Regions from separate parts of the Homo sapiens genome. Here region 2 is linked to region 1. Evidence: fine-mapped expression QTL. A gene starts in region 1. The other region holds a variant in brackets. All regions are shown on one strand. Distances are between the middles of the regions.

The links. PIP is the estimated chance that this variant, and not a neighbour inherited with it, causes the effect. A credible set is the group of variants that fine-mapping cannot tell apart.
Region 2: its variant is the best candidate, but not a certain one, in a credible set for the expression of RAB4A-AS1 in skeletal muscle (GTEx, PIP 0.80).

What each region holds. Positions count from the first base shown.
Region 1 is chr1:229,269,706-229,272,614 of GRCh38, forward strand. RAB4A-AS1 (RAB4A antisense RNA 1) reads right to left here and starts at 1,449. Exons shown (of 2, transcript NR_149313.1): 1 at 1,271-1,449. RAB4A (RAB4A, member RAS oncogene family) reads left to right here and starts at 1,406. Exons shown (of 8, transcript NM_004578.4): 1 at 1,406-1,665. The coding sequence starts at 1,635. RefSeq lists silencers at 1,218-1,747, 1,788-1,947.
Region 2 is chr1:229,324,914-229,327,822 of GRCh38, forward strand. It overlaps CCSAP (centriole, cilia and spindle associated protein), which reads right to left. Exons shown (of 4, transcript NM_145257.5): 3 at 1,825-2,093; 4 at 1-498. The coding sequence ends at 322. Among named protein-coding and RNA genes, the nearest start is that of CCSAP, 17 kb to the right of the region's middle. The variant A/C (reference allele first, on the strand shown) is at 1,222.

The DNA.
Region 1 (2,909 bases):
AAACAGTTTTAGGAATTACAGCTGTCACAACTTTTCACCATGGGGCCTTCTCTGTGATTTAGAAAAAACTGCATTTATTTGTTATTAGGATCGGAGACAAGAGAAAAATACCGACCCAAATAGCCACTGGGGAAGAGGGAAGCTCTGATGCCAATTTATGTGGAGGATGGAGCCAAACTGACTCACACACACACACACAAAAGTATGTACTGGCATTTTCCACACAGTCCAGGTCACTTGGGAGCTTAGCCAAGGATATTTTGAGCATTCGACTACCTATTGTGAACAAGGTTGGGAACTATGAGGCGCTATGTGGCCCTGATCAAGCTCAGATGGGCCAAATCCTCAACCAAAATTCTCTTTCCCATAAATGTTTATCTCTACATTTCCCACAGAAGGGGATTCTAACTCAGTTTTGCTTCTGAAACCAAACTATCCAAGGCCAGGTGAGATGACTCATGCCTGTAATCCCAGCAATTTGGGAGGCCAAGGAGGGAGGATGCTTGAACTCAGGAGTTCAAGACCAGCCTGGGCAACATAACAAGACCCCATCTCTACAAAAAATTTAAAAATTGGCGCGGTGTGGTCGTGTGAGCCCCTAGCCCCAGCTACTCAGGAGGCTGAGGCAGGAGAATCGGTTGGGCTGGGCTGACAGTGCCAGACCCTGTTAAAAAATAAAAATTAAAAAAACTCCTAAATTTGGAAACACATCCCCAGCTGAGGGCCGGGAGATACTTCTCAACCGTAATCCAGAACCCTCTAAAATGGGATGTGGAGAGGCTGCAGCCTGTAGTCTTGCGATGACCTTTTAGCACCTGGGCATCTTGCGCTTCTGTCATTCCGCCCACACCCGCTCAGCTCCATCCAAGAGGGCCCGGCAGTTTGGAGTGAAAGCTTAGCTTCCCAACGGGTAAATGAACCTGCCTCCCATTCACAGGGCGGCCTCTGGCTGGACACCTGGGGCCTACTGCCTCCTTGTTACACATTAACCAAGTTCTGGCCTCCATCGTAACAGCGTCAGGGAAGTTTTTTCCTGGCTGACAGCCGCAGATGATGACCGAAGACAACGTCTTAACTGAGACGGGCCAATTTGGCAAATGGACTGCTTTCCTCCCCAGTGCGGGCACCTTCCTCCTCTGTCCGGCAACTGGACCCCACTGTCCCCAGCCCTCTGTCACCCCCAAACCTGCCCACCGCCCGCCTCTACCCGACCCTCCCTCAGGGAAATCGGGACTCAGCCCCCAACGCCCCCACCTGCCGCTCTGCCCACCTCAGCGCACACCGCCAGAGCGCCCAGCCCGCGCACGTGCTTCCGGCGCGCGCCGAAGTCCTCACGCGCCCCGCCCCGGCCTCCCCGTGCGCACGCGCGAACGCGGGGTGGGCCGGGCCTCGCGTAGCCCATCTCCTCTTCCTCCTCGCGGTCGCGGCCGGACGGAGGGTGGAGGGCCCTGCGCCTGCGCGGAGCTGGAGTCCGGCTGGGCCGCAGCCGCTGGGAGACCGGCGGTTGCCGTGGGGACCGGTCGGGCCCCTCCCTCCTCCGGTCCCCCGCCCCAGGTCCTTCCCCACCGAGACGCGCCGGCGGACCGCGGGCGAGTGCAGCCGGTGACCCGGCGAGAGGCGGCGCCGCTCCCAAGATGTCGCAGACGGCCATGTCCGAAACCTACGGTACGAGGCCCGGGCTGGCGGGGCGCGCGGGTCGGGCCGCGGGGGGCGTCGGTGGCGCGGGGCCGGGCCTGGGCTGCGGGGGTCTTGAGGGTGGCGGTGGCGCCGGCCGGAGCCGGGGGACGGATCTCGGAGGTGTCTGGGCTTGGGACCGGGATGGGGGACGCGGGCCGCTGGGGGCTCGGGTGGGGTAGCGGGTGCGCGGGGCGCGGGGGCGCTGTGCACAGCGCATTGGCGTGATCCGCCTTTTCAAGTTTCCTCTTGCTCTTTCTCTGCTCTTGCACTCTTAGCGCTTTTCCCCTCTCAGTCTAATGTAAATAACTGAAGGTTTGAAAAGCCAGCTTGATGTTCGGTTTCAGCTGCGATATTATCCCCAGCGAGCCTGTGAAGGGCTTAGGGCGACGCCTGTGTTCCTCAAATACTTCAGTTTGACCTTTCCTGGTTTGGAATTCCTTGCTTTACATTGGGATTACAGTGAGGAGTTATTAATAGGCTAATTCATTCATCTCTTCCTCCGGAGACCTCTTGCTTCGTTTATTTCTCCCTCCCTCTCAGTGTTTTTTAGCCTTTTCTGGGTTGCATTTTGGCTATTTATAAACATGTCTTGTCTCCTTCTTAAGACCGTAAGCACCTTGGAAGCAAAGCCCTGGCTGTTTAATCTTTGTTTCCCCTGCAGCACCCAGACCTGGAGGTGCTTGACAAATACTGTTTTGAATAAGCGAAAGCTTTCCCAGTGCATATGCTGTGTGCTTTTTTTTTTTTCTCCCCTTTTTTGGCCTTGCGTGGTAAGAATAAACAACTTGTACTTTGTATCAGAGTTGAATATTAATAGATGTTTACCAGTCCCTAATCACTCTTTCAGATGTATGTATTCTCAGATTAAGACTTTGATTTGGAGTTTTACAGTCCCAGAGAGAGGCTCAAGTTCAAAATTACATACCTCAAGCCAAATTAGTCCTGTCTCCATCTGTCCTGGCATGCTGCTTCCTTCTCTGCAACAAATACTGTGGAATGGCATTAGGGAAGCGAGCACCGTGCTGGGAGGGCTGTACATCCTGCAGAAACACAGCAGACACGGCTCTGGTCTCATGGAGCGTAGTCTATTGAGGGAATGCAGTATTAATCCAATTGTGATACTAATGAGTGAATAATTAAAAACCAGGCAAGAGTTCTGAAGGAGTGTGGTCCGTGAAAGTGTGTTAGAAAGAAAGATGACCCAGACAGGGGTGTCAGGGAGGCATTAACCA
Region 2 (2,909 bases), 55 kb after region 1:
GTTGCCATTTAAAGGCATTTGGTGTCAGTATCTTAAAAGATTAAGATGCTTTAAAACAAAAACCTTATAAGAATATCAAAGATTTAGGGAATTATCTTCATAAATAACCAAATGTCTATGGCTTCAACTGTCTGCCCTACTGCCGAGGTAGGTGACCAATATTCATCAAAATAAAACAATCTTTTACAAATTCCCTAAAAAAAACCTTGCATAATCAGTTGGTTTCTTAAACCTGTGTCCGTTTCTTTTGATGGTTTTTGTTTTGTTTTTCCTTTCAGTCATTTACACTTTTTAAAAGAGGCTGTCCACGCAAGTGTTTCTTTAAGCTCTTGCCGAATAGCACCTCATGTATTCTGTCATCCACGGGTTCTCTGAGGAGGAAGCCTTCATCTTTCTGTTCTTCTCCACATCCACAGAGTGAGCTCGCTGCCTTTGAGCAACCAGTTTCCTTTTTTCCACCTGTCTTCTGTTCTTGGCTCGTAATGCTGATTCATGAATCTAAAGAGAGTTCAAAATAAAGGATAGTAACTTAAGGGGCTATTATACTAATGTTCAACAGAGGTTGCAATGAAGCTGGCTACTGCCAGGTCAACTGCAGCAGGGCAGAGTCAAGCCCTGCCTCTCTATATAGTTCTTCTTTACATAAAACCTTCCACAGAAGAGCCATTCTCACTTGATGCTGTTCTCACTTGATTCATATCAGGGATAATGAAACTAAGCAACAGCAAATTAAATGTTAGACAGAAATGGTAAGCAACTAATTTGCATGTGCCTCTAGAGTTGGCTCTGGAAAACTGTCCGAACTGCTTAGCATTAAACATAAGTATTTAATTAACGACTTATAAACAGCTCATAAAAAGCAGGGAAAATAAAAGAACTTTAAATGTTTAACATCAGTATACCAAAGACATCTCGAGATTTTACCACCTAAGATGTCTTATACTACAGATAAATCCTGTTAAAATTAATCCCACGGACTTCTTAGAGATCTTTTGTTAAACGGCAGCTTTGTTGTCTCAAATATCACTCCAAATAACACCATTTGCTAGGGTTCAGATGTCTGTTCAGTGAAATTTTCATTATGCTGTTTATCTAGAACTCAAGCAGTTTGCAGTTTCACTTTCTGCTTCCTTAAACGCAGCCTTTGCTTTAGGCTATCATAACAGTATTAACGCTAACATACATGTTTTCTGACTACACACATGAAGGTCCTCTCATCTG[A/C]AATGTTTCCGGGTCTTGACACAGGAGAGACAAGCTAAGGCTAAGTCAGGGGAGGACTAAAGCTCCTGAGAGTAAAATGCATTTGTTATGGATGAACAGGGGAAATGCAGCCATTTGAATTTAATCAGAGGAACAAAAGGGAGTCTCTGGCAGATGCCAAGCAATCAATCAATCAGACAAACCAAAGATAAAGAAGCGCCAGGTTATCGAAGCTGAAGGAAGCTGAAACAGCTCAAGAGACCAGTGGCAAATCCAGATGGGCCGTCGCCAGCCTTGGCTGTGCTGCTCCTCCTAACCTTCCGGCCCCCCAGGAACTTGTGAACCCCAACTCCATCTACATCTTTGCCTGGCTTGGTGTCACTAAACTCTTCTGGGTAACTCCAAGCCAAAACCCCTCGCTCTGCAGGCCACCAACATGCAGAATCCTCCTTTGGTTCATCAGAGGCTCCATTCTGGAGTTCCCCAACCCACCATGCTATCCCCTAAGATCTCCCATGGGCCCAAAGCACCCAGTGGCCAAAGGACACGATGCCCGATGACAGGCGCATGGCCCAGCTGGCCACTCTCAAAGGGAACACAGAACCACAAGGGCCCAGAGCGCACCTCGTGCACAGGAGCGGACGCACAGACGTTGTGAGTCTTCTGGCTTCCTGTATCGGTCTGTTTTTCTCCCCAGCCATAAAGAGCAAATGGATGCTTGTTTTCTTTTATTTTACTCGATGATCTTTGGGGACTTTTGACCGCTTTCCTGTTTCCTCTAGCAAATAAGGCACTTGGTTGCTGTCGAGGCTCAGTACTGGTGGGTGATTTGTCAGTCTCTCTTGTTCTGGTTTGTTGTTCAGGTTTATCTTCTACATCTTTCACTGGCAGTGCTTTTGAAAAGAGATAAATGAGATGAAAATACTTTGAAATCAGATTTATATATAATTAAAATATTTATGTTGAAAAATCATAATGCTTAAGACAGTAACATTTTCACTTATGGCTCAACTCATACGATCCACTTAAAGTAGAAATACAGGAACAAGTTAGCATAATTTTCAAACCATTTATCTCATTTTAAAATCAACAACAAATATACCAAGATTGAACCAAGCTTATTCAAAAGCAACCACTGCTACTCCGATTCTGAGACTTAGCATCTGGAATGTTAAAAGATAGACAGCACCACACCCTAAGGGCTTTCTCCGCAATCCCCCAAGATAAATCCAATCATCTCAATTTTGCTTTCCTTCACGGAAAGATCTGGATTTGTGGTCATCCTCCAGCAGCTGCAGGAGGTTGCTGTTTGAGTTACTCCACCCGAAAATGCTCCTTAGTCCTTCCGTGCTCCTCCTGAGAGCCGCTTCCTTCATTCAAAAGCCCCTCCGCACAACAGGGAGTGATTTCCATCGTTACCGCCTAGGTGCGCAGCCAGGCATTCCCTGTGGGAAGAGTTAAAAATGAGGGCCCCGGCCGGGTGCGGTGGCTCACACCTGTAATCCCAGCACTTTGGGAGGCCGAGGCGAGCGGATCACGAGGTCAGGAGATCGAGACCATCCTGGCCAACATGGTGAAACCCCGTCTCTACTAAAATACAAAAAAAAAAATTAGGCATGGTGGTGCATGCCTGTAGTCCCAGCTACTCGGGAGACTGAGGCAGGGGAATCGCTTGAACCTGGGAGGTGGAGGTTGCAGTGAGCCCAGAT